Regions from separate parts of the Homo sapiens genome. Here regions 1, 3, 4, 5 and 6 are each linked to region 2. The links come from fine-mapping of genetic effects on gene expression. A gene starts in region 2. Each other region holds a variant in brackets. All regions are shown on one strand. Distances are from middle to middle. Region 1 has its middle 13 kb from the start of ANKRD18B. Region 2 holds the start of AQP3 (aquaporin 3 (Gill blood group)). Region 3 overlaps AQP7 (aquaporin 7). Region 4 overlaps LOC105376020 (a long non-coding RNA gene). Region 5 has its middle 21 kb from the start of AQP3. Region 6 has its middle 18 kb from the start of AQP7.

Region 1 (4,087 bases), 64 kb after region 2:
AAATCGAGACCAGCCTGGCTAACACAGTGAAACCCCGTCTCTATGAAAAAAAAAATTAAAAATTAGCCGGATGCAGTGGCACGCGCCTGTAGTCCTAGCTACTCAGGAGGCTGAGGCAGGAGAATCGCTTGAACCTGGGAGGCAGAGGTTGCAGTGAGCCAAGACTGCGCCACTGTACTCCAGCCTGGGCAACAGAGTGAGACTCCGTCTCAAAAAAAAAAAAAGAAAGAAAGAAAAAGATGTTTTTTGTCAGTTATTTACAGATTCTAGCAAACACACACAGAATACTGATCAGTTTTAGATTTCCAAGTTTTCGAGTTAATAGAAACGCCAAATGGTTTTAAATTAGGAAAAGCTAATCCAACACAGAATTCAAATAAATATTACTCTTGTACCTTCCTTTTGGCTTAACATTTAGCTTTCTTCTTAAAGCTCTTCGGTCAGTGAATAAAGCTGTGTGACAAAATTCATCTCCTTTTCTCATTAGCATCACTTATGTAATTTGGCGGGGTGCAGTGGCTCCCGCCTGTAATCCCAGCACTCTGAGAGGCTGAGGTGGGTGGATCACCTGTGGTCAGGAGTTTGAGACCAGCCTGGCCAACATGGTGAAACCCCCTCTCTGCTAAAAATACAAAATTAGCCAGGCATAGTGGCATACACCTGTAGTCCCAGCTACCTGGGAGGCTGAAGCAGGAGAATCACTTGAACCTAGGAGGCAGAGGCTGCAGTGAGATGAGATTGTGCCACTGCACTCCAGCCTAGGCAATAAGAGCAAAACTCCATCTAAAAAAAAAAAGATATTCAGTTTTTCCCTATCCAGATTCTTCATCAGAATAATTTTTAAAGTTACACAGTACAGGAATACATTATTTTTTTAATATAGATAGGGTCTTGCTATGTTGTCCAGGCTAGACTCGAACTCTTGGGCTCATGTGATCCTCCCGCTTTGGCCTCCCAAAGTGCTGGGATTACAGGCGTGAGCCACCATGCCACATTCTTTTTTATAAAAAAATACAAAGAAGAGCATGTCATTTTAATACTCTGTTAAACAGTAAATGTGATACTATTCTTTATCAGCCTACTCAATAACTACGAATGAAACCTATATACATTATCCACCCACTGAACGAAAAAAGAGACATCCATAAAATTTAAATAGGTGTTGCTCAACATGTCTGTCACACTTGAGCTACTTTACCTTGTATGAAAGACCAACTCAAAAATCCTCAAAGACAACCTTTATTTTATTTGATTAATTGGTCATGGGTAAAATGTATAAGTAACTTATTAAAAAGGGGCAATATACTTTATAAGAAAAATTACCACAGTAATTCCCAAGAAGAATGTGACAATAAGCTCTTTGACGATAATATATGTGCATCATCTGGTTTCTGTTCCAAAGCCTTAGTCAGCTCCTACAAAAACAAACATGTTGAGTGTCAGTAAAAGTTTTTTAAAAGCCATCAAATAAATTCTAATTAAAACATCATTTTTAAACAAATAACTTATGATCAGAAACTACTTGGAGGAAAGATAACAGGGATGTAATCTTGGAGTTTTTCCTCGTAAGAGGATCTCCCCGGTTTCTCGCGGTCCTGCTAAAACGCTGTCAACCTAACGCTCCACCAGAGAGGCCCGTTGGCTTCTCGGGAGGCGACCGAGGGAGCTCAGGAGGCGGGGAGGCTTTTACAAGAAGCGAAAGGACGGCCTCAGGGGTGGCCGGGAACAGCCTGGAATCAGCTGGAGGACATCAGCAGGACTGAGGAAAGGGCCACCACCAGCGTGAGGAAAGGGGGGAGAGGGCAGAACGCGGCGAATGGCCGCGCTCGAGGGCTGGCGGGGTCCCAGCGAGCAGCGGCTGGGAAACAATGGCGCGAGCGTGACGTGGGCCGGAGGCGCCGCCGCGGCGCGGAGGAAGGGGCTGCCGTGGGACTGTAGAGTCTGTAGAGTCTTTTGGAATTTATGTGATTACAATCTTGCAGTCTGTGAATAGAGATGGTTTAACTTTCCTGTAATCTTTATACCTTTTAGTTTTGTTGCTGGCTAGTATGTCCACTATTGAATAGAAATAGTGATAATGGACTTCCTTGTCTTGGTTGTAAAATCAAGAGGAAAGCATTCAATATCAAGTGCTTTTTCTACCTTTATTGAAATGTTCATATGTATTTTTAATAATAATATGTTACTGTTATATAATAATAATTTTAAAATAATATTTTAATAATAATGTTACAATGTGACCAATTACATTGGTTAATTTTCAAATGTTATCTAAATGGCCGGTTGTCCTTCCGGATCCCCATTGATTCCGATTGGGATGACACTATAGGAGAGGCAGAACCAGTGAAGGAAACATAACGTTTATTCAGGAGTTACATACAGGGGTGGTCCAGTGGTGGTGGGCTGGCCTGGAGAAACGCTACCGTTTGTA[TA/T]AAAAAAAAAAAGCATGTAGTCCATATAGCATATCGCATTTTCACTTAGAACCCTCCTTCTAGCAGTCTCCATTTAACCCAAAATAAAGGGCCTTGATCACCTGTACAGGCTGTGTTCCAAGGGATGGGGCAGGGGTATGGCTGTCCTTCATAGGTAAGTAGTGAATCTCAGTGTTGGCTACTCCTGGATTCCTTAGCCTGGGACTCCAAACACACTTAGAATAGGGTTATTCTCAGGTATGCTCCATTTATGGCTCAGCCATACACCAAGGTGTATACACCAACCCCTGCCATGCACCAATATGCATATAAATATGAATAGCCTCTGAAAGGGCAAATTCCTAGATTGACCTATAGGCCCACATGAAAAGTTCTATATTAATAGCTATGTCATGGCTGAGCACAGTGGCTCATGCCTGTAATCTCAACACTTTGGGAGGTCGAGGCGGGTGGATCCCTTGAGGCCAGGAGTTGGAGACCAGCCTGGGCAACATGACAAAACCCCATCTCTACTAAAAATACAAAAATTACCTGGGCTTGGTGGTGCACACCTATAATCCCAGCTACTAAGGAGGCCAAGGCACAGGAAACACTTGAACCTGGGAGGCAGAGGTTGCAGTGAGCGAGATGGCACCACTGCACTCCAGCCTGGGCAACAGAGTCAGACTCTGTCTCAAAAAAAAAAAAAAAATAGCTGTATCGTGGACATTGAAATTATAATGAGATAATAAAACTACCACCAGAATGACTTAAATTAAAAGGATTTCCAATACCAAGCATTGACAAGGATAGGAGCATTTTTTAGAGAGAATGACCAAGGAGTTGGCTACAGTCAGGTGCTGCAGAATCAGATCTGTGGACCTTAATGTGCATCTGGTGAAATAAATAACTATAATGGTGAAGAACAAAGCAATTGCCCAGGAATCCTACTGTGGTCTGAGATAAGAAGATCATTCCTATTGCCACATCCCTGGAGGCCATTTTTCTTTTTTCAATGACTGATCATCCTATTCAGAGTGAGAGGATCTGGCGTGAAAACAAGAGGCCTGTTGTACTATGGCAACTGAAAGCCACTCTTTTCCATGTACCATTGTTTTCAAGCCATTAATTTCCTATTAAACTTCATTTTCCTCTTCCTGAGAGTTTCGCTATAAAAATATATGTGTGTATAGATATATATTCCCAGCATAAGAGTGCTGTAACAGTGTTTTACATAGAACTTTTACAACAATTCTTTGAAGTGCTTTATTGTTCCCATTTGACAGGTGAGGTGATTTCGGGCACAGGAAGGCTGAATGACATTTCCAAAGTCACCTCCTTGTAAGAGGCAGTGTCAGAAGCTGACAATGGACTTGACCACTATGCTGTCATAGCAACAGAGAGAAATAATTTTTAAGACAATCCATGTATTTAAAAAATATTTTTGTATCTCTTGTGAGTTTTTAAAAGAATCGTTTTGAATTTTTTCTTTTTGATTGTGATTGAAAACACCAATGCTTGTTTTATAGGCAAATATCATCTATAGTGATCAGAGATCCAAGTAAAATATAGATGTGCTGATCTTAGCATAATCTTAGAAGAATAATTATATACAACCAAATGGAATTTCTTAAATGCACAAATGGAATTAAAAGAGGAGGTTCTTTTCCATCTTA
Region 2 (4,087 bases):
CTATTTAAAAAAGAAAAAGAACGTACTATGTCTGTTCCCCTTGTTCAAGCCTGAAAATACTTCTGCAGCAGCTGTAAAGCATTGTTGCCCTGAGCCCCCTGAGTGTCCCTCAAAGCTGCTCCAATGCCTTGCCCTGGTCTCCTCTCCCACCTGCCCATAACTAAAGGTTTTATGCCCACAGAGCAGGCAGTTTCCAGGACCTGTGCTACAGACCTTGTTTATTCTGACGGGTCAGTGCCTGTTGTACTGGATAGTTAAGCATTTTGATTATCATCCCAGAAAGACCAAGAGATAACGGAGAAGCCAGCGGCAATGACATGGGGCAAAGGTGTGCAGGCAGGTGAGAGCAAAGATCAGAGATTGCAGGTGTATGTGTGAGGAGGGGTGGTGGGAGACAGGCACGTGAGGGTCTGAGGCGCCCTGCCCTGCTTGGGAGGCCCTGGCAGCAGCTCCTTGCCTGCCAAAGGCTCAGACCTGGCTCCATCCCAGGACGCCTTGGAGGGAGGAGCTGTCAGAGCCAGTTCCACCACCTTGGGGCTAATCTTCCTCTTCCTCCCCCAACCCCTGCCCTGAGTTCTCGGCCAGCACCGCCCCCTGCCCTCACACCAGGTATCTCAGAGAAAGGGGCTTTCCTCACCCCAAAGCCAACCCTGATTCTGCCACTGCAGGCCTAGGCTCCCAACACGCAGGTAGGCAGGCAGGCACTCACCCACTACAAAGGGATCCCCAGGCCTGCCCCTCCAGTTCATGCAGTCCTTGAAGTTCTGCTTCTCACTGATATCCAATACCTCACATCCATCTGAGTCTGCAACCCTTCCCCTAAAATTTAACACTCTTCTTTTGTGGTCTGGGATAAGCCTGATGATCCTGGGGCTCAGTGGGAGGACTAACGGCTCCTTTGTGAGAGAGTGAACTGAGACTTGGGAGGGAATGAGGAGGCCCCTCTAGGAAAATAGAAGACATCATCCTCCCCTAGCCTGGCTGCTCTAAAACAGGTGGCTGGACTCAGGACTCCGATAGGAGTGAGGGCTCCGAGGCAGGAGAGTGATAAAGGCCACCTCCTATTGCCTTCTTGGCACAGGAGAGAGGGGCTAGGGCTGGCTGATAGGACGACTAATCTTATGGGAGGCTGTGGATAAAATGCCCCCTGTGGCTTCCCCACTTCCTATTCTTGGAAGCCAGAAGTGGGTTTCAGCCCTCCTCTGCCCATAGATCCTGATCCTCAACCATTTGGGGATCCCTACTTGCCCTTAGTTAGGCTTCCTAGTCCACAGTGGGCCAGCTGGTCTGTACTACCCAGGGCTGGGGCAGGAACGGAGTAACCCACTCACTGCAATGTAGCAACTGAACACAGAGGAAAACAGGTGTAACCACATGAGCGGCTGAAAAATCAGAGTAACTGGGACAGGAAATAGAACATAACTGGTGGGTCTGCCAGACCTAAGAAGTGCAAACAGAGTCACTCAGAACAAAACCAGGGTGAAACTGGTGTGACCAAGGAGTAACTAGGACTGAGGAGTAACTCAGGCAGGGAAATGCTCACTCAGAGAACCCACAGAGTAACCAAGAGGCCAGGGAGTAACCAGAATGCTTGTCGTCTTCTGCACAGACGCTGACAGCATCTGTCTGGATAACAGACAGGGCCTGGGAGTCGCTGAGCACCAGGTGAGCAACTTTAGACACGCGTCCTCTGTGCCTGGGCCTAGCTTCCTCCCACCCTTCTACCGTCAGAATCTGCCTCCCTTCCCACTTCGCTGTTCGCAGCCCATGTGGCCTGCACCCTCTGCCCCCACTCGTGCAAACTGTCCTCACTCACTTCAACCTTTGGACTTTTTGAGGCTTAATTATTCATTAGAGGCCAGACACCCAGGACCCAAATAACCTAATAATGGCTCATTTGCCTCCGCCCCCTCCCCTACATCTGGGGGCTGGGATTCTGGGAATCTGGAGGGGTGTGGGAGGCAGGGGAAGTGGCTGGCTGTCCCAGACTGCAAGCGTGACCGCTGCCCCCAGCCTGTTGGCTGAGTCACTTGTGGGAGGGTAAACGATCGGCACTATCACTGGGGAGTAACAGCTGTCATTCTGGCAAGAGTCGGAGCTGTCAGAGAGGGGGTTAGAACCGTGGGGAAGAGGACTTTGGAAGTCAGCTTGATCCTCCGCGGTTAAGCGTGGGGGTCACAGCTGGGGAGGTGGGTCCAGGCTACCTTGGAAAACACAGCCCCTTCGGGGAAGTGAGAGTTTGGGGAGTGCAAGGGCTGGAGAGAGAAGGGCTTCCCCGGCTCCCTCCACTCACCACCAGGATGAGGGTCCCCAGGCACTCGGCCAGCGCCTGTCGGAGCAGCCGGTAGCGGATGTGGAGCATCTCCCCGCAGCGGGACACCAGCTCCTTCTGTCGACCCATGGCGGGGCAGGCGGCGGCGCTGTCGGGCGGGCAGGGGTGGCGGGAGGCGGTGGCGCAGCGAGCAGCGGCCTCCAGCGCTGGTGGCTCCCTTTATAGGAGCGCTGGAGACACGGGCCCCGCCCGCCCTGCAGCCCCGCCCTGCAGTCCCGGAGCGCCGAGGAGTGCGCGCCCCCTCGCCCCCGCCCCACCTCGGCTGGGAGGCTGGTGCGGACGCCGGGTGGAGGGAGCTGCGGGCATGGAGTGTGAGGAGCTTTGAGGGACGGGTGGCCTTCGGAGGGCGCTTAAGGGAGGGGACGTCAAGGGGGCTGAGAGGCTTAGGCAGATCTGAGAGCCAATGGTGGGATTATAGGCAGGGTTCAGGGCCATGGCTGGAGAGGATGCAGCTGTCATAGAGACCACCTGCGCCCTGTGATCACCCCACTTCCTTGCGGGCAGGAGGAGACCTGTCAGAAAGAAACTGGCCGCATCTCTCCAGGATGACTGGACCCAACAGATCCTCAGTTCGAGGCAGGAGGAGGAGGCTGCGAGCCCCAAGTGAGAAGCAACACTGTCTCTTCTGTCAGGACAGATAAGGCACCGACCCTTCAAGGGGACAGCTAGTGTCAGAGGGGCAGCAGTCCAGACTCAGGTGGGCACACAGACACACGTGCTGAGTTCCAACCAGACTTCATGGGCCCTTCTCCCTGTGCTATGAGCACGTCGTGTGTCGCATGTCCTGGCCAGCTATGTCCACAGCTGTGTCTACACATGGCGGATGTCCTGTGTGCCTAATTGTACGGCTGGGCATTCCTCGTGGCTGTGCACATGCCTGTTGAACATGGCTAGGTGACCTAGCTTGTCACACGTGTACCTGCGTGCATTGCTCACATGGCTCCAGAGGCTGAGCTGCAGTTGCCCCGACATGCCACATGCCACATGTTTGCCAGCAGGCTGAGTCCCAGCTGTTTTTAACCCTCTCCTCTCCCATCTGACTTACCCCCAGCCAAGGAAGAGTCTGTCTCTTTTTTTTTTTTAGACGGAGTCTCTCTCTGTCGCCTAGGTGGAGTGCAATGGCGTGATCTCGGCTCCCTGCAACCTCCACCTCCCAGGTTCAAGTGATTCTCCTGCTTCAGCCTCCCGATTAGCTGGGATTACAGGTGCACACCACCATGCCCAGCTAATTTTTGTTTTTTTAGTGGAGATGGGGATTCACCATGTTGACCAGGCTGATTTCGAACTCCTGACCACAAGTTATCCACCCGCCTCAGCCTCCCAAAGTGCTGGGATTACAGGCGTGAGCCACTGAGCCCAGCAAGTCTGCCTCTTTAAGCAAACTTAATTATGGGGGAGTCAGCCCTATCTGAGGGGGATCATGGGACAACCTTGCCCTCTCTCTCTTTTTAAAGAGTAGGGTCTTGCTCCATCACCCAGGCTGTGGTGCAATCACAGCTCACTGTAGCCTCGAACTCCTGGGCCCAAGTGATCCTCCCACCTCAGCCTCCAGAATGGATGGGACTATAGGGACTATGTGCCACCATGACACTCAGCTAATTTTTAAAAATCTGTTGTAAAAATGAGGTCTTGCTATGTTGCCCAGGTTAGTCTCAAACTCCTGGCTTTAAACGATCCTCCCACCTCGGCCTCCCGAAGTGCAACCTTGCCCTCTATGCTGCTTTTAATAACAAGGAAACATCTGGTGGCCTGGGA
Region 3 (4,087 bases), 57 kb before region 2:
TTGCAGCCAGAGTGATCTTCCTAACAAAAACCCCATCGCGTCTTCCCCAGACTCACTCACTGGCTCTCCTCCACTTCTAGGATAAAGTCCAAACTCAGTAGGCCACCATTGAAGACCCTGCATAATTTCATCCTTTCTGCCTGTTTCATATCTGCCCCAATACTCTTTGTATTCAGCAATAGTATTACTACTAAATAATAATAACCATTTATTGAGCACTGCCTACATGCCAGCGAGTTATACTGATCACCTCCTTTAACCCTTAACACCAATCTTATGACTTAAGCACTATTATTCTCCCCCACTTGACAGAGGGTAATCTGAAGCTTAGAGAACTTGAATGGCTTGTCCAAGGTCACACAGCCTGTACCTGGTGAGCCAGGATTAAATCCAGGCAGTTACCTGTGCCAGATGGCCTCAAACCAAACAACTGTGCTGCTCCATGCATGCCTTGCTTTCTTGTGCCACTGTTTTGTTTGTTTGTTTGATGTTTGAGACAGGGTTTTGCTCTATCACCCAGGCTGGAGTGCAGTGCCATGATCAGGGCTCATTGCAGCCTCCATCTCCTGGGCCCAAGTGATCCTCCCACCTCAGCCTCCCAAGTAGTTGGGACTATGGGCATGTGCCTCGGCACCCAGCCAATTTTTTTTTTTTTTTTTTTTTTGAGACAGAGTCTTGCTCTGTCGCCCAAGCTGGAGTGCAATGGCACGATCTCTACTCACTGCAACCTCCAACTCCCGGGTTCAAGTGATTCTCCTGCCTTAGCCTCCCGAGTAGTTGAGATAATAGGTGCACGCCACCATGCCCAACTATTTTTTTGTATTTTTAGTAGAGACAGGGTTTCACGATGTTGGCCAGACTGGTCTCAAACACCTGACCTCAGATGATCCGCCTGCCTTGGCCTCCCAAAGTCCTGGGATTACAGGCATGAGCCACTGCGCCCTGTCCCAGCTAATTTTTTCAATTTATTTTGTGTAGAGATGAGGTTTCACTATGTTGCCCGGGCTGGTCTCGAGCTCCTGGCCTTAAGCAGTCCTCTCACCTCAGCCTCCCAGAGTGCTGGGATTACAGGTGTGAGCCACCATGCCTGGCCAGAATATCCTAATAATTTTACATTGACTGCATCTTGAAATAGGATTTTGGATATATGGGTTAATTATTAAAATTAATTTCACCTGTTGCTTTTTACCTTTTTAATGTGGATACTAGAAAAATTTAAATTATACAGATGGCTTGTATTGTATTTCCCCTGGAGAACTCTGTTCTAGAGTTGATAAAAGAGAAAACCTGGAGAATTGTAGACATGAGGGCCGAAGTCAAAGCCGTCAGAGGAGAAGGCCCCAGGAGAGGGTACAGGGTAAGAAGGCAGACCAGGCCGGATGCGGTGGCTCATGCCTGTAATCCCAGCACTTTGGGAGGCCGAGGTGGATGGATCACTTTAGGTCAGGAGTTCAAGACCAGCATGACAAAACCCCGTCTCTACTAATAATACAAAAATTAGCCAGGTGTGGTGGCGCTTGCCTGTAATCCCAGCTACTCAGGAGGCTGAGACAGGAGAATTGCTTGAACCCAAGACGCGGAGCTTGCAGTGAGCCGAGATCACGCCACTACACTCCAGCCTGGGTGACAGAGCAAGACTCCGTCTCAAAAAAAAAAAAAAAAAAAGAAAAGAAAGAAAAAGAGTTGAAAGACACCAGTGTAGACTCCTCTTCGAGAACTCGCCTGAGGAGCGGGGGAGAGAGAACATGATCCCGCGAAGGGGCTGACAGGGTGAAGGGAGGGATGTTTCATTTTGTGTTGTTTTCAGTGGAGAAACTTCAGTATATTTATAGGCTGAGAGAGGGACAGGCTGAAGATAAAGGACAGAGA[A/T]AAAGGACAGAGTAAAGTACCTGAATAGGCTGGACAGCTGGATTGGTGCAGAAGTGGAGGGGTCCTCCAGGAAGGAGAGGACCCCGCCCCAGCCAAGGGGTGATATGTGGATACATGGGTGGTTAATGGGTCTGGTGGTGAGAGGGACAAGAGGGTGAGCTGAACACAGGAAGTGTTGATTATTTTACCTGTCAAGCAGCAGATCAAGCCATTTGCTGATTTAAAAAAAAAAAAAAGTCAGAGTACAGAGCAGCTTTGGGGAAGTCTGAGAAAATGTGAAATAGCCCAGATATGGTGGGGGAGAGGCAGCTGAGCAGGGCCCACTGGGTCCCTCAGAAGCCCCAGGACAGAAGCAGGGGAGCCCAGAGCTAGGCTGGCTTCAGATCCAGGATAAGATACAGCAGGAGAGGACAGGAACAGATGGGGGTGCAGGGGGGAGTGAGGCCAGGACAGGTTGACAGGCTGGCAGGGTCAAGAGGTAGAGGGACTGGAGCAGGCATGGAGGGTCTGAAAACAGAGGGGCCCCCATGGCCTTTCCCCCATTCCAATACCATGTGCTAAAAATACTGGATGAGCATAGGCTGGGCGCGGTGGCTCACGCCTGTAATCCCAGCACTTTGGGAGGCCGAGGCAGGCCGATCATGAGGTCAGGAGTTCGAGACCTGCCTGGCCGACATGGTGAAACCCCGTCTCTACTAAAGATACAAAAAATTAGCCAGGCGTGGTGGCACATGCCTGTAATCCCAGCTACTCAGGAGGCTGAGGCAGGAGAATCACTTGAACCTGGGAGGCAGAGTAGTGAACTGAGATCACACCACTGCACTCCAGCCTGGGCAACAGGGTGAGACTCGGTCTCAAAATAAATAAATAAAATAAAATACTGGGTGAGTGAATGAACCCCACATGATTCCCTGTGTCAGGGTTGCCAACTGGCAACTCATGCACGTAATTCATCCAGCGCACAGGTTTTGTTTAGATAACTTGGTTTTGAAGAACAGAAGTTTCCTTCTCTCTTGAAAAATGAGCAGCTCAGGCAACACTGGCCTGCATTCCACTCTCCATGGCAACAGTCAGCTGGAGTGGCGGCAGCTCTACAGCCTTGCACAGATTGGCACTCTGCAGCCAGCCAAAGTCCCCACCGCCCTGAGTTGCCGCTCTCTTGGCCCCCGTAGCATGTGATCTACAACCCTTGCCCCGTGTCTCACGTGTATGGCTGGTTTTCCAGGGCCCGGATGGCTCCAGCCCCTCCTCTCCCTGATCAGTGAATGTGGCCCAGCCCATCCAACTCTCCCCCACAGCCAGGAGGCCAGCTCCAAGGGCAACACCCCTGGAAGCTGCAACATGGATCAGTCCACTTCCCTCATCCTGGCTGCAATAAATGGGGCCAAGGTCACACTAGCTTTTTTGGCAAAACCTTCACCCTGGTGACTCACTGAGATTCCTGTATATATATATAAAAACAAAAACAAAAAGCCCTCACTTCTTGGCACAGCCTGGCAACTAAAAATAACAACAACACAATGTCCGATATAGGCTTACACCTCACAAAGTTCTTTTACAAGTGCTACTGTCTTCAATCCTCACAGCAAATCTGCACGGCAAGAATTTTTCTCCCACTCTATAAATGGGGAAACTGAGGCCGAGAGAGGCATCTTGAACTACCTGAAAGTGAGGACCTTACCCTGGCTGGGGGAGCATTAACAAGCCAGAGTCTTCAAAAGCTGGCAATATTTAAGCTAAGGGACAGAGCATAGAGGTTAACGGTCAAGACTGTGATACTGGGCCGGGCACGGTGACTCATGCCTGTAATCCCAGCACTTTGGGAGGCCGAGGTGGGAGGATCACTTGAAGTCAGGAGTTCAAGACCAGCCTTGACAACATGGTGAAACCTCGTCTTTCCTAAAAATACAAAAATTGGCTGGGCATGGTGGCATGCACCTGTAATTCCAGCTACTCCAGAGGCTGAGGCGCAAGAATCGCTTGAACCCGGGAGATGGAGGTTGCAGTGAGCTGAGATCGCGCCACTGTGACAAAGCAAGACTGTATCTCAAAAAAAAAAAAAAAGACTGTGATATTAGACTGCACTGGATTTAATCTTGACTTACAGTGTGACCTTGGGCAAAAGGCTTAGTCTCAAGGAGCCTCAGTTTTCCCATCTGTGAAACTGGGATAATAATAGTACCTACTTCACAGGGCTATTGCGAGGATTTGGGAAGAT
Region 4 (4,087 bases), 35 kb before region 2:
CAGGTACTAAGCCCAGTACCCAATAGTTGTCTTTTCTGCTCCTCTCCCTCCTCCCGCCCTCAAGAAGACCCCCGTGTCTGCACTTTCCTTCTTTGTGTTCGTAAGTTCTTATCATTTAGCTCCCAATGCTTTCCATTCTTTTAGATATATGTGCCCTTGGCATTTTTGCCCTTTTGGGCCCCTTCTTCCAGCAAATAATAATAATAGTAATAATTAATTCTATTTTACAACTATTGGTATAAAGACAAATATATTAATTTTTTTTTTTTTTCCGAGACAGGGTTTCACTCCCGTCACCCAGACTGGAGTACAATGGTGCGATCTCAGCTCACTGCAACCTCTGCCTCCTGGGCTTAAGCGATTCTCCTGCCTTGGCCTCCCAAGTAGCTGGGATTACAGGTGCCTGCCACCACTCCTGGCTAATTTTTGTATTTTTTGTAAAGGCGGAGTTTCTCCATGTTGCCCAGGCTAGTCTCAAACTCCTGAGCTCAAGCAATCCACCCGCCTCGGCCTCCCAAATAAGTGGAATTATAGGTGTGAGCCACCACGCCGGCCCTGATGTATCAATATTAAAACATTTTCTTCAGCCTACAAGTTCTTCTTTTTCTTATTTGGATGCAAACTAAAACATTTTGTGGGCCCTTAGATTGAACATTCTCATGGGTCCTGTGCCTCCTGTGCGTCATGGAGAAGGCAGCCCTGCATGGCTCTCACATCCTCTTCCCCCACGCAAATGCTGCCACCTCCCCAGCCTCCATCTCCAGCCCGGAGCTCAAGAACAAGTGGTCCAGCCTCCTCTCTTGTTATCTCGTATGTGTAACAAGCACATTACCTTCACCTGCCCCAACCCAACCTCACCTCCCCACAGTCTGCCCCCTTCCCAAGGGCCTAGCCCAAGGAATGCTCCTCCCCACCACATCTCTGAAGCTTTCCCTCCAGGAGTCACTCAACTACTCCCTCTCTCGTGGCCCCCTCAATCAGCCCCAAATCTAATCTCCAAGAGCCTCTCCACGGGTCTCCCGGTCTGCATCCCCCTTGAAGTAGGAGGCGGGACTTGACTCCAGAGGTGGGGCTTGGACACTGGACCAGATTGAGGACTAGCTAAAACAGGGCTGGAAGCAGCTTTCTAATCAGACATGCGCCCCAATGTGCCATGTTAATTTATCATTGCCATCTCAACACCTGGGAGTTATCACCCCTTTCCATGGCAATGACCCAATGGCCCAAAAGTTACCACCCCTTCCCTAGGAATTTCTGCATAAATTGCCTCTTAATCTGCATACAATTAAAAGTGGGTATAAATATAACTGCAAAACTGCCCTGGGCTGCTGCTCTCCGCCTCTGTATAGCCCTGCTGTGCAGGGGCAGTCATGGAGCTGTAACACTGCCGCTTCAATAAAGCTGTTTTCTTCTACTTCTCTCTGCATTGCCCTTGAGAGGCAAAGCCGAGAACCCTCGCAGGCCAAGCCCCACTTTGGGGCTCACCTCTCCTGCATCACCCTCACTCATTCTCCATTTTACAGCCATTTTTTTCCCCTTTTTGAGACGGAGTCTCGCTCTGTTGCCCAGGCTGGAGTGCAATGGAGCGATCTCAGCTCACTGCATCCTCCACCTCCCAGGTTCAAGAGATTCTTGTGCCTCAGCCTCCCAAGTAGCTGGAATTACAGGCACCCACCACCAGGCCCGGCTAATTTTTGTATTTTTAGTAGAGATGGGGTTTCACCATGTTGGCCAGGCTGGTCTCAAACTGCCTATTTTATTTTATTTTTATTTTTCTGAAATATGTTAAATTCCAGCTACTCTGTCATTTCATTCCTACATTCTTCAGTGTTCCCTCTAAAATATAGGAACATTTTCTTAAATAATCAGTGCCATACCTGACAAAATATACAATTCCATAGAATGATCAAATACTTGGAATTGTTTCAAAGTGTCTTTTTGCATTGATTTGTTGGATTGTTTGCATCAGGATCCAAACAAGGTCACACATTACGTTGGGTTAAATGTTCTCTTAAACAAGAGGAATTCCCCTTTCTCCATCATTATTTTTTCATGTCATTGACTTGCTGAATAAATGTAGTCCTGTAAGAGTCCCACATTCTAGATTTGTCTGTGTTTTTTCTTTGTAGTGTCATTCAGCTTTTCCGTCATCCCCTGTATTTCTTTGAGTAAGTGGCTGGGCACAGTGGCCCACACCCCTAATTCCAGCACTGTGGGAGGCCAAGGCAAGTGGATCATTAGAGCCCAGGAGTTCAATGCCAGCCTGGGCAACATGGAGAATTCCAATCTCTA[C/T]AGAAAACACGAAAATTGCCAGGCGCAGTGGCTCACACCTGTAATCCCAGCACTTTGGGAGGCCGGGGCAGGCGGATCATGAGGTCAGGAGATCGAGACCATCCTGGCTAACATGGTGAAACCCCATCTCCACTAAAAATACAAAAAATTAGCTGGGCGTGGTGGTGGGCGCCTGTAGTCCCAGCTACTCAGGAGGCTGAGGCAGGAGAATGGCGTGAACCCGGGAGGCGGAGCTTGCAGTGAGCCAAGATCACACCACTGCACTCCAGCCTGGGCGACAGAGCGAGACTCCATCTCAAAGGAAAAAAATTAGCCAGGCATGGTGGCATGCACCTGTAGTCCCAGCTACTCAGGAGCCTGAGGCAGCAGGATCACTTGAACCTGGGAAGTCAAGGCTGCAGTGAGCCATGTCTGTGCCATTGAGCAAGTCCCTGTCTCAAAAAAAAAAGAAAAAAAAAAAGAGAAAGAAATAAAAAAAAAATATGAGAAGTCAGCTCTGGGCTGGGCGCAGTGGCTCACACCTGTAATCCCAGCACTTTAGGAAACCAAGGCAGGAGGATCGTCTGAGGTCAGGAGTTTGAGACCAGCCTGGCTAACATGATGAAACTCCGTCTCTATTAAAAATACAAAAATTAACTGGGCGTGGTGGTGCACGCCTGTAGTCCTAGCCACTGGGGAAGCTGAGGCAGGAGAATCACTTGAACCCAGGTGGCAGAGATTGCAGTGAGCGAAGATTGCACCACTGCACTCCAGCCTGGGCAACAGAACAAGACTCTGCCTCAAAAACAAAAAAAAGTGGCCAGGTGTGGTGGCTCACTCCTGTAATCCCAGCACTTTGGGAAGCTGAGGCGAGAGGATCACCTGAGGTCAGGAGTTCGAGACCAACCTGGCCAACACGGTGAAACCCCGTCTCTACTAAAAATACAAAAAAATTAGCCAGGTGGGGTGGTGGGTGCCTGAGTAGTCCCAGCTACTCAGGAGGCTGAGTCACAAGAATTGCTTGAACCTGGGAGGCAGAAGTTGCAGTGAGCCAAGATTGTGCCACTGCACTCCAGCCTGGGTGGCAGATCAAGACTCTGTCTCAAAAAAAAAAAAAAAAAAAAAAAAGAGCTCTAATGGTGTATGGTTTATTTATTTTTTATTAATTTTATTTATTTATTTATTTTGAGACAGCGTCTCACTCTGTCACCCAGGCTGGAGTGCAGTGGTGTGATCTCAGCTCACTGCAAGCTCTGCCTCCCGGGTTCACGCCACTCTCCTGCCTCAGCCTCCTGAGTAGCTGGGACTACAGGCACCCACCGCCATGCCTGGCTAATTTTTTTGTATTTTTAGTAGAGACAGGGTTTCACCGTGTTAGCCAGGATGGTCTCGATCTCCTGACCTCATGATCCGCCCGTCTTGGCCTCCCAAAGTGCTGGGATTACAGGCGTGAGCCAACACACCCTGCCTGGCTTTGTTTATTTTTTTGAGACAGTCTCGCTCTGTTGCCCAGGCTGCAATGCAGTGGCGTGAATGTTGCTCACTGCAGCCTTGACTTCCCGGGTTCAAGTGATTCTCTCAGCTGGGACGACAGGCGCATGCCACCATGCCACGCTAATTTTTGTATTTTTTGTAGAGATGGGGTCTCGCCATGTACCCAGGCTGGTCTCGAACTCCTGGGCTCAAGCAACCCACCCACCTCGGCCATCCAAAGTGCTGGGACTACAGGCACGAGCCACCGCGCCCGGTCTGGTGTGATTTTATTTAGGTTCAGTCTTGCATGTGGGCTGGAGCAGCGGGTCCTCTGTGGAGGTGC
Region 5 (4,087 bases), 20 kb before region 2:
TCCTGACCTCATGATCCGCCCGCCTCGGCCTCCTGAAGTGCTGGGATTACAGGTGTGAGCCACGGCGCCCGGCCTTCCCTCAGTTTCTTGAAACTCCCTTGGAGAACAGAAGATGAAATACAGAGTTGACATGTCATGCCCAGATTCCCTTTTCCCTAATTACAAGAAAGTGTTTTCCCTGTTCCGTGAGTAACTAACTGCCTTTCTCTAAGTGGCCTCACTCTGATGAGTAACTGAAAATGCACTTCTCTGTTTGAACTTTGTCAGAAGTGTCCGTGCCAAAAAGCTTTGAAATGCTCAAAAGTACATAAAATAGAAAGGGACCGCAAACATAAAACAGGAAACAAACAAGTTAATCAAGTGCTTAGCATAGTGCCCAGCACATATTAAGGACTTGGTAAATGGTATTTATTAACTCAACAGACATTTATGGATTTCCTACTGGAAGTCAGGCACTATGGGGACTTGGCAGTGACCAAAACATAGTTACTGCCCTCCCACAGCGTCCTGCCTGGTGGGCAAGACAGCCTTAAACACATGATTACACGAATGGTGGTTAGTTATAAGTGTTAAGTGTCAAGGTACTGGGGGGCTATCACATCAGGATAAGGGGACACTGATGAATTATAAGGTTACACTGGGGTCGGGCATGGTGGTTCACGCCTGGAATCCCAGCACTTTTGGAAGCCAAGGAGGGCAGATCACCTGAGGTCAGGAGTTTGAGACGAGCCTGGCCAACATGGTGATACCCCGTCTCTACTAAAAATACAAAATTAGCCGGGCATGGTGGTGCATGCCTGTAATCCCAGCTACTCGGGAGGCTGAGGCAGGAGAATCACTTGAACCTGAGAGGTGGAGGTTGCAGTGAGCTGAGATTGGGCCATTGCACTCCAGCCTAGGTGACAGAGCGACGCTCCGTCTCAAAAAAAAAAAACAAAAACACAGTTGGGGTACGGTGGCTCACACCTGTAATCCCAGCACTTTGGGAGGCCGAGGTGGGCAGATCACCTGAGGTCAGGAGTTCGACACCAGCCTGGCCAACATGGTGAAACCCCGTCTCTACTAAAAATACAAAAAAATTAGCTGGGCATGGTGGTGCACACCTGTAATCCCAGCTACTTGGGAGGCTGAGGCAGGAGAATCACTTGAACCCGGGAGGCAGAGGTTGCAGTGAGCCAAGATCTCGCCATTGCACTGCAGCCTGGGGGACAGAGTGAGGCTCTGTCTCAAAAAAAAGGGGATATATTGGGGAATTCTAAAAAGGAAAATAATTGTCATGTTAATAAATGGAGATTTTAGGGCCAGGCTGGGCAGAGGCAACTGCCAGTTGTCATGAGTGCATGCAGAGAAGATTCAGGGCTTCCTGGAAAAGGCTTCTACCTGGTATTTATTTAATACCCTGGGAATAAGTGCCTAGGCCCAAGGCCTAGCCCACCTAGAGGTCAAAATGAAGCATCGCTTGCCAGGGCAGACGGCAAAGCTAAGTGTAGCAAATCCAGGTCAGGAAGCCCAGAGGAGGCCAGAGGCTGGAAAGGCAGGGGCAAAGTCTCAAATGTGGGCACATGTTGAGCATGTCAAAG[A/G]GAAAGACACCAAGGGGACCTCAGTGAGGGGCTTGAGATCAGAGGATGTGGATGATGATCGGGAGGAGGCAGAGGTAGGGCAGTAGTGGTTGACTAACAAAGGGGCAGCAGGAGGGTGGTGACAGTCCAGAAGACTTAGAGATGATGGGGACTGAGATAGGTGGTAAGAGCGGGAGACTATGTTGGGGCTGTGGCAGCAAAGGTGACAAGGTGACAGGGTCGGGTGGGGACAGTCAAGGTGACAGGAGAGATGGGAATGAACTAGCAAGTGACAGGTTGGGTTGGAGGTGGTTGACAAAGGGTTGGTCCAGATAGCCACAGGCTTGGGCATGGGGCAGGGGCAGGGATGGTGGCAATGCTCAAGAAGGTAACACGATGATGGGAACTGGGTCAAGTGACAGCGTGGGTAAGAAAGGGGCAGTGGTTGTGATGCAGGGATGATGGTGAGGGTGACAAATGAGTGACAGGGTCAGAGAGGAGTGATGACCATCAAGGTGACCCAGGGGTGACAGGAAGTGTGGGTGGCAATGATGTCTGTGCCAGTAGCAAGTCAGAGACACCCATCTAGCCCCCCTCCCCTGGGCCTGTTTCAACAGCGGAACTGTTTCCTAGGCCGCAGGTCTCATGACTCAGTACCATGTATCAGCCATGCCGTGGATAAGATCTCTAGGTGGAGCCCCAGCCGTGGGGGCAGGCTAGGTGCCTGTGTCGGCTGTGCCCAGGCCCATCGAAGGACCCAGGCATGGAACCTTAATGTCATCTCTGCCTCCTCCCTCCTGGGTCCACATCCACTCCAATCTGGGGTTGGCCACAAACACTTAGCCTCCTTCTCCTTACAGACTACAAAAGTTCTAGCCAGAGCTTTGTCTATTCCACCAGGCTTCTTCCACGGCTGACCCCATTAGAAGTTTCTGGGCCTCTAATTCTTTCTCGTAACTATCCCCTGTGGGGAGAGAGAAAGGAAGGTGGACTTCAAGAGGGTTCTGAATAATCCCATCCATTCATCCCACAAATATTTATTAAACTCCTTGCAAGGTACTAGGGGCTGACTTGCACAACCAGACCTGTGTCCCTGTCTCCATGAAGCTCAGTCTGGAAGAACAATGGCAGCGAATGGCAGCCACCATTGGGACAGTGCTACTTACTTGTAACAGAGTGGGGCAAACTTTTTTTTTTTTTTTTTGAGACAGGATCTCACTCTGTCACCCAGGCTGGAGTACAGGGGTGTGATCATGGCTCACTGCAGCCTTGACCTCCTGGACTCAAGCGATCCTCCTGCCTCAGCCTCCTGAATAGCTGAGGCTACAGGTGTGTGCCACGACACCCGGCTATTATTTTTTATTTTCTGTAGAGACAGGGTCTCACTATGTTGCCCAGACTGGTGCAAACTGCTTTTTAAACCATGAAGAGACCAGGCGCGGTGGCTCACGCCTGTAATCCCAGCACTTTGGGAGGCCGAGGAGGGCGGATCACCCTAGGTCGGGAGTTCGAGACCAGCCTGACCAACGTGAAGAAACCCCATCTCTACTAAAAATACAAAATTAGCCGGGCGTGGTAGCGCATGCCTGTAATCCCAGCTACTCGGGAGGCTGAGGCAGGAGAATCGCTTGAACCCAGGAGGCAGAGGTTGCAGTGAGCCGAGATCATGCCATTGCACTCCAGCCTGGGCAACAAGAGTAAAACTCCATCTCAAAAAACAAAACAAACCAAACCAAAACAAAACACAACCCTGAAGAGAGTGGGTCTCATTAAAGGAAATCTTGGGGACTGTGCCAGTGACCCTTCGGCTAAGCTAAACACTGTATAAAAAGTAATTTAGAGTATAGTGAGCAATCAGGAGAGAGAAAGTAAGGAGGGGGGGATGGGAGGGTAGAGAAAACCAGCAGTGTGGCCAGAGGCAGGGGTACTAAGTGGGGTGAAGGGGCCAGGGAGAAATAGCCTCTGGTGGAGGAGCCAAAATGATTTCGAAGAATAGAGATGTTTAATATTCAATTTGAACGTGTTGTACAAGGTAAATTCCCCACCAGGCACGGAGGTTCACGCCTGTATTCCGAGCACTTTGGTAGGCCAAGGTGGGCAGATCATTTGAGGTTGGGAGTTTGAGACCAGCATGGGCAATATGGCGAAACCCTGTCTCTACTAAAAATACAAAAATTAGCCGGGCGTAGTGGCACGCGCCTGTAATCCCAGATACTTGGGAGGCTGAGGCAGGAGAATCTCTTGAACTCGGGAGGTGGAGGTTGCAGTGAGCCAAGATCATGCCCCTACATTCCAGCCTGGGCAACAGAGCAAAACTCCGTCTCAAAAAAAAAAACAAACAAAAACAAAACAAAACAAAACAAAAAACCACCAAAGTAAATTCCCTCTGTCTCCCCAAACTTTCCACACAGTTTGTTACTAACAAAGAAGTTTGTTACTTCCAGGGCTGGGCACGGTGGCTCATACCTGTAATCCCAGCACTTTGGGAGGCCGAGGCAGGCAGATCACGAGGAAAAGAAATCGAGACC
Region 6 (4,087 bases), 27 kb before region 2:
CCTCTAGCCACTCCCCATCCCTACCGCAGAGCCAGGACCTAGCCTAGCCCAGTATCTGTCTCTGCAATTCCTGGAGACAGTCGCCAGGTAAGGGCAGCTGGCCTGCTGGAGCCACCTCACCCACCTCTGATCTTTGCCTAGGATCTGCTCCTGCCTGTCTCCTGGTTCTCCAGGGCACACACCCCACCCTGGGGCCGAGGCTCCACTATCCACCTGTCCAGACTTGCCTTCCATCCTGCGGGCCGACACGCCCAACCCAGCCAGTGCCCTGTGGTAGAATGTCTCACTCAGGTCAGAGAGTACAGCAGGAAGAGGGGGCTTGAGGGGGCACCTTCCACCCATCCCCATGGCTGACACCCCTTCCGCAACTCGGGAAGGTCCCTGAAGGACCTCAGGACCCAGTTCACCAAACTCCTCAAGCTTTATAGGTAGGTGGAGTAAAGCCCTGAGGGCCAGACCAAGGCTTCAGGGTGGATTAGTGGCTGGGACAAGACTAGATCCTAGGCTAGATCCTACGCAAGGGAAGGCCTCCCATCCCTACACAGGGAGACTTCTTCCCACAGACAGCCTCCAGGGAGGAGACTCAGAGGGCTCCCCTGAGAGAGTAGGGGTTGCTAGAGGAGTTACAGGGAGTGGGTCCCAGTCCAGGAGGGACAATCTTGCCCTGCAGGGTTTTGGGAGGTTGGATACTTCCCAGCTCAGTGCTGAGGGAAGGAAAACAGACCAGCTCACCCAGTAATCAGTGTTCCTTACAGGTGGCATACTTAAATGGGGGCGTGGGGGTGGGTGCTGTCCTCCCCAGGGGCCGGCAATAGGGGGCGCATCATTGGCAATGAACTTAAAAACACTTGATCTTAGCCAAAAGGCTAAGAAGCGATGCAATGAACTTAAAAACAATAAAACTGACTAAAAGTCAGTCTGCAGCCGGGCGCAGTGGCTCACGCCTGTAATCCCAGCACTTCGGGAGGCTGAGACGGGAGGACCACCAGACGGTGAAACCCCGTCTCTACTAAAAATACAAAAAAAATTAGCCGGGCATGGTGGCGGGCGCCTGTAGTCCCAGCTACTCAGGAGGCTGAGGCAGGAGAATGGCGTGAACCCGGGAGGCGGAGCTTGCAGTGAGCCGAGATCGCACCACTGCACTCCAGCCTGTGCGACAGAGCGAGACTCCGTCTCAAAAAAAAAAAAAAAAAGTCAGTCTGCTTCTTGTTGTCCCTATCAGCAGCAATGTTAAACAATGTCCGTGGTAAAATACACAGATGGGGTGAACCAACTGCCCCCTCCCCTTAGTACACCACAGTTCCTATCTATATATTCACCCCCAAATTCCTGCCAATCAAATCTACATGATTTCTTAGATCCTAAGACAATTAAGCCTTCTTTGGAGAATGTATGCGTCCTTTTAGGACATTTTTTTCTGAATGTCTACCGAGCATCTTAAGAAGTGTGAATGTGCCAGGCGCAGTGGCTCAGGACTTTGGAAGGCTGAGGTGCATGGATCACCTGAGGTCTGGCCAACATGGTGAAACCTCATCTGTACTAAAAATAGAAAAATTAGCCGGGCGTGGTGGCGGGCACCTGTAATCCCAGCTACTTGGGAGGCTGAGGCGAGACAATCGCCTGAACTCAGGAGGCAGAGGTTGCAGTGAGCCGAGATTGGACCATTGCACTCCAGCTTGGGCGACAAGAGCAAAACTCTGCCTCAAAAAAAAAAAAAAGAAGAAGAAGAAAAAATGTTAATCAGTTCCTACAAGAGTACTTCATTTATTCATTATTCATGTATTCAGCCGTGGGAGCTCTCCCAAGTGCTAGGTGGTAGATGCGCACTGGAGAACAAGTCCCAGTCCCAGACCTGGAGGACTTACAAGGCATGTAGAGAAGCTGGTGAGTAAACAAGAAGCTAC[A/G]ATGCAAGTATAGAGGTGATAAGCACACGGGTCTGTGGGAGTTGAGAGGACAGCGCTGAACCAAGCTTGGAGCTTGGGAATATCAGGGAAGCCTTCCTGGAGGAAGGGACATCCTCTTTAACAGCAGAAATGAGAAAGAGTTAGCCAGGCAAAAGGGTGAGGGACAGAAAGAATAAGTCAACTCATGCAAAGGCCCCGAGGGAGCCTGGGAAATGTGTGGCTGGAGCAGGATGGGAGCCCCTGACACTAGAGAGCTAAGCCCGGGCTGGACCATGAATGGTCTTGTCCTTGCTCGAGGGACTGATGGGGGTCACTGAAAGTCTGTAAACGGGAGTGGCAGGGAAAGATTAGTATGTTAGAAAGCTCTAAAGCATTGCTGGAGCTCAGAAGGCACGAATTTGGTGGGAAGAGTAGGAGTGGAGCAGAGAAACTGGTTAGGAAGCAGTTGCAGTAATAACGGCAGGAGTTGGTGGTAACTGGAACAAAGGGAGTCGCATCAGGATTGGAAAAAGGGGCTGGACTGGAGGATGGTGCCAGTGAATGATCGAGTTGGGGTGCAGGTGTGTGGGGTAGCCCCAGGGTTTCTGGTGGGGTGGTGCCCCTCTCTGATGGAAACAAAGGAGGAGGAGCAGGCTTAGTGCATAATCGGGTCTTATTTTCATATTTCTGATAAGATTTTCTCAAGTCTACAGCACTTCCTAAATATGTCATCACATGTGTGAGGTTTTTTGTTTTGTTTTGTTTTTTGTTTTTTGTTTTTGGTTTTTGGTTTTGTAGATCAAGGCGGCCCCCAAAACATTCTTTCTGTGTAAGGAGAGGTTACTCTGGAGAATTAAAGTAAAAGAGATGAGAGGTGCAGCAAAAAAGTCTGCTTAATTACTCCGCTGCACTTTCCCTATCCCTCTTTCATTCAACATCTACAAAGTCTGGTGCTTGGAAATAGAAAAGAATCCTGAGCCAGGCACAGTGGCTCACACCTGTAATTCCAGCACTGTGGGAGGCCAAGGCAGATGGATTGCTTGAGGCCAGGAGTTCGAGACCAGGCTGGCCAACATGGTGAAACCCTGTCTCTACTGAAAAATACAAAAATTAACCAGGTGTGGTGGCGCACACCTGCAATCCCAGCTACTCAGGAGGTTGAGGCATGAGAATTGCATGAACCCGGGAGGCGGAGGTTGCAGCGAGCCAAGATTGGGCCACTGCACTCTCCAGCTTGGGCAATAGAGCGAGAGACTGTCTAAGAATCCTGGCCTCATAAAACTTTCAATCTAGGTGTTGGCTTATGCCTTTAATCCCAGCACTGTGGGAGACCAAGGTAGGGGGATCGCTTGAAGCCATGAGTTCAAGACCGGCCTGGGCAACACAGCACAACCCCTATGTACAAAAAAATAAAAAATTGTCTGGACATGGTAGCATGGGCATGTAATCCTACCTACTTTCAAGGCTGAGGCAGGAGGCTGCAATGAGCCATGATCCAGCCACTGCACTCCAGCCTGAGTGACAAAGCAAGACTCTGTATATAAAAAAAAGAAAAAAAAGAATTTACAATCTCATAAATCAAAAGTAATATAGGATTATAAAATACTGACATGGCCCGGTTAGGTGGCTCATGCCTGTCACCCCAGCACTTTGGGAGGCCAAGGCAGGCAGATCACTTGAGGTCAGGAGTTTGAGACCAGCCTGGTCAACATGGTGAAACCCTGTCTTTACTAAAAATACAAAAATTAGCCAGGTGTGGTGGCACACACCTGTGATCCCAGCGACTTGGGAGGCTGAGGCAGGAGAATTGCTTGAGCCCAGGAAGGAGAGGTTGCATTAGCCGAGATTGTGCCACTGCACTCCAGCCTGGGTGACAGAGCAAGATCTGTCTAAAATAATAATAATAATAATGGTACTTTCACATAAAACATTTTTTTTTGAGATGGAGTTTCCCTCTTGTTGCCCAGGCTGGAGTGCAATGGTGCAATCTCTGCTCACTGCAAACTCCACCTCCCAGATTCAAGCAATTCTGCCTCAGCCTCCCAAGTAACTGGGATCACAGCCGCGTGCCACCACTCCCGGCCAATTTTTTGTATTTAGTAGAGATGGGGTTTCACCATGTTGGTCAGGCTGGCCTCAAACTCCTGACCTCAGGTGATCCACCTGCCTCAACCTCTTAAAGTACTGGGATTACAGGCATGAGC

What was found. PIP is the estimated chance that this variant, and not a neighbour inherited with it, causes the effect.
Region 1: its variant is the best candidate, but not a certain one, in a credible set for the expression of AQP3 in prefrontal cortex (ROSMAP, PIP 0.87).
Region 3: its variant is the best candidate, but not a certain one, in a credible set for the expression of AQP3 in anterior cingulate cortex (GTEx, PIP 0.62).
Region 4: its variant is the best candidate, but not a certain one, in a credible set for the expression of AQP3 in whole blood (TOPMed, PIP 0.59).
Region 5: its variant is the best candidate, but not a certain one, in a credible set for the expression of AQP3 in whole blood (INTERVAL, PIP 0.66).
Region 6: its variant is the best candidate, but not a certain one, in a credible set for the expression of AQP3 in lung (TOPMed, PIP 0.63).

The regions. Positions count from the first base shown.
Region 1 is chr9:33,509,297-33,513,383 of GRCh38, forward strand. It overlaps the pseudogene SUGT1P1 and the pseudogene VN1R47P. Among named protein-coding and RNA genes, the nearest start is that of ANKRD18B, 13 kb to the right of the region's middle. The variant TA/T (reference allele first, on the strand shown) is at 2,432.
Region 2 is chr9:33,445,130-33,449,216 of GRCh38, forward strand. AQP3 (aquaporin 3 (Gill blood group)) reads right to left here and starts at 2,464. Exons shown (of 6, transcript NM_004925.5): 1 at 2,294-2,464. The coding sequence starts at 2,401. RefSeq lists a silencer at 2,450-2,639.
Region 3 is chr9:33,388,382-33,392,468 of GRCh38, forward strand. The region is part of intron 3 of AQP7 (aquaporin 7); the gene reads right to left. Among named protein-coding and RNA genes, the nearest start is that of AQP7, 12 kb to the right of the region's middle. RefSeq lists enhancers at 1,909-2,696, 2,697-3,483, 3,010-3,304. The variant A/T (reference allele first, on the strand shown) is at 1,870.
Region 4 is chr9:33,409,960-33,414,046 of GRCh38, forward strand. LOC105376020 (a long non-coding RNA gene) reads left to right here. Exons shown (of 3, transcript NR_188543.1): 3 at 281-591. Among named protein-coding and RNA genes, the nearest start is that of AQP7, 9.4 kb to the left of the region's middle. The variant C/T (reference allele first, on the strand shown) is at 2,293.
Region 5 is chr9:33,424,997-33,429,083 of GRCh38, forward strand. No RefSeq gene overlaps it. Among named protein-coding and RNA genes, the nearest start is that of AQP3, 21 kb to the right of the region's middle. The variant A/G (reference allele first, on the strand shown) is at 1,581.
Region 6 is chr9:33,418,106-33,422,192 of GRCh38, forward strand. No RefSeq gene overlaps it. Among named protein-coding and RNA genes, the nearest start is that of AQP7, 18 kb to the left of the region's middle. The variant A/G (reference allele first, on the strand shown) is at 1,905.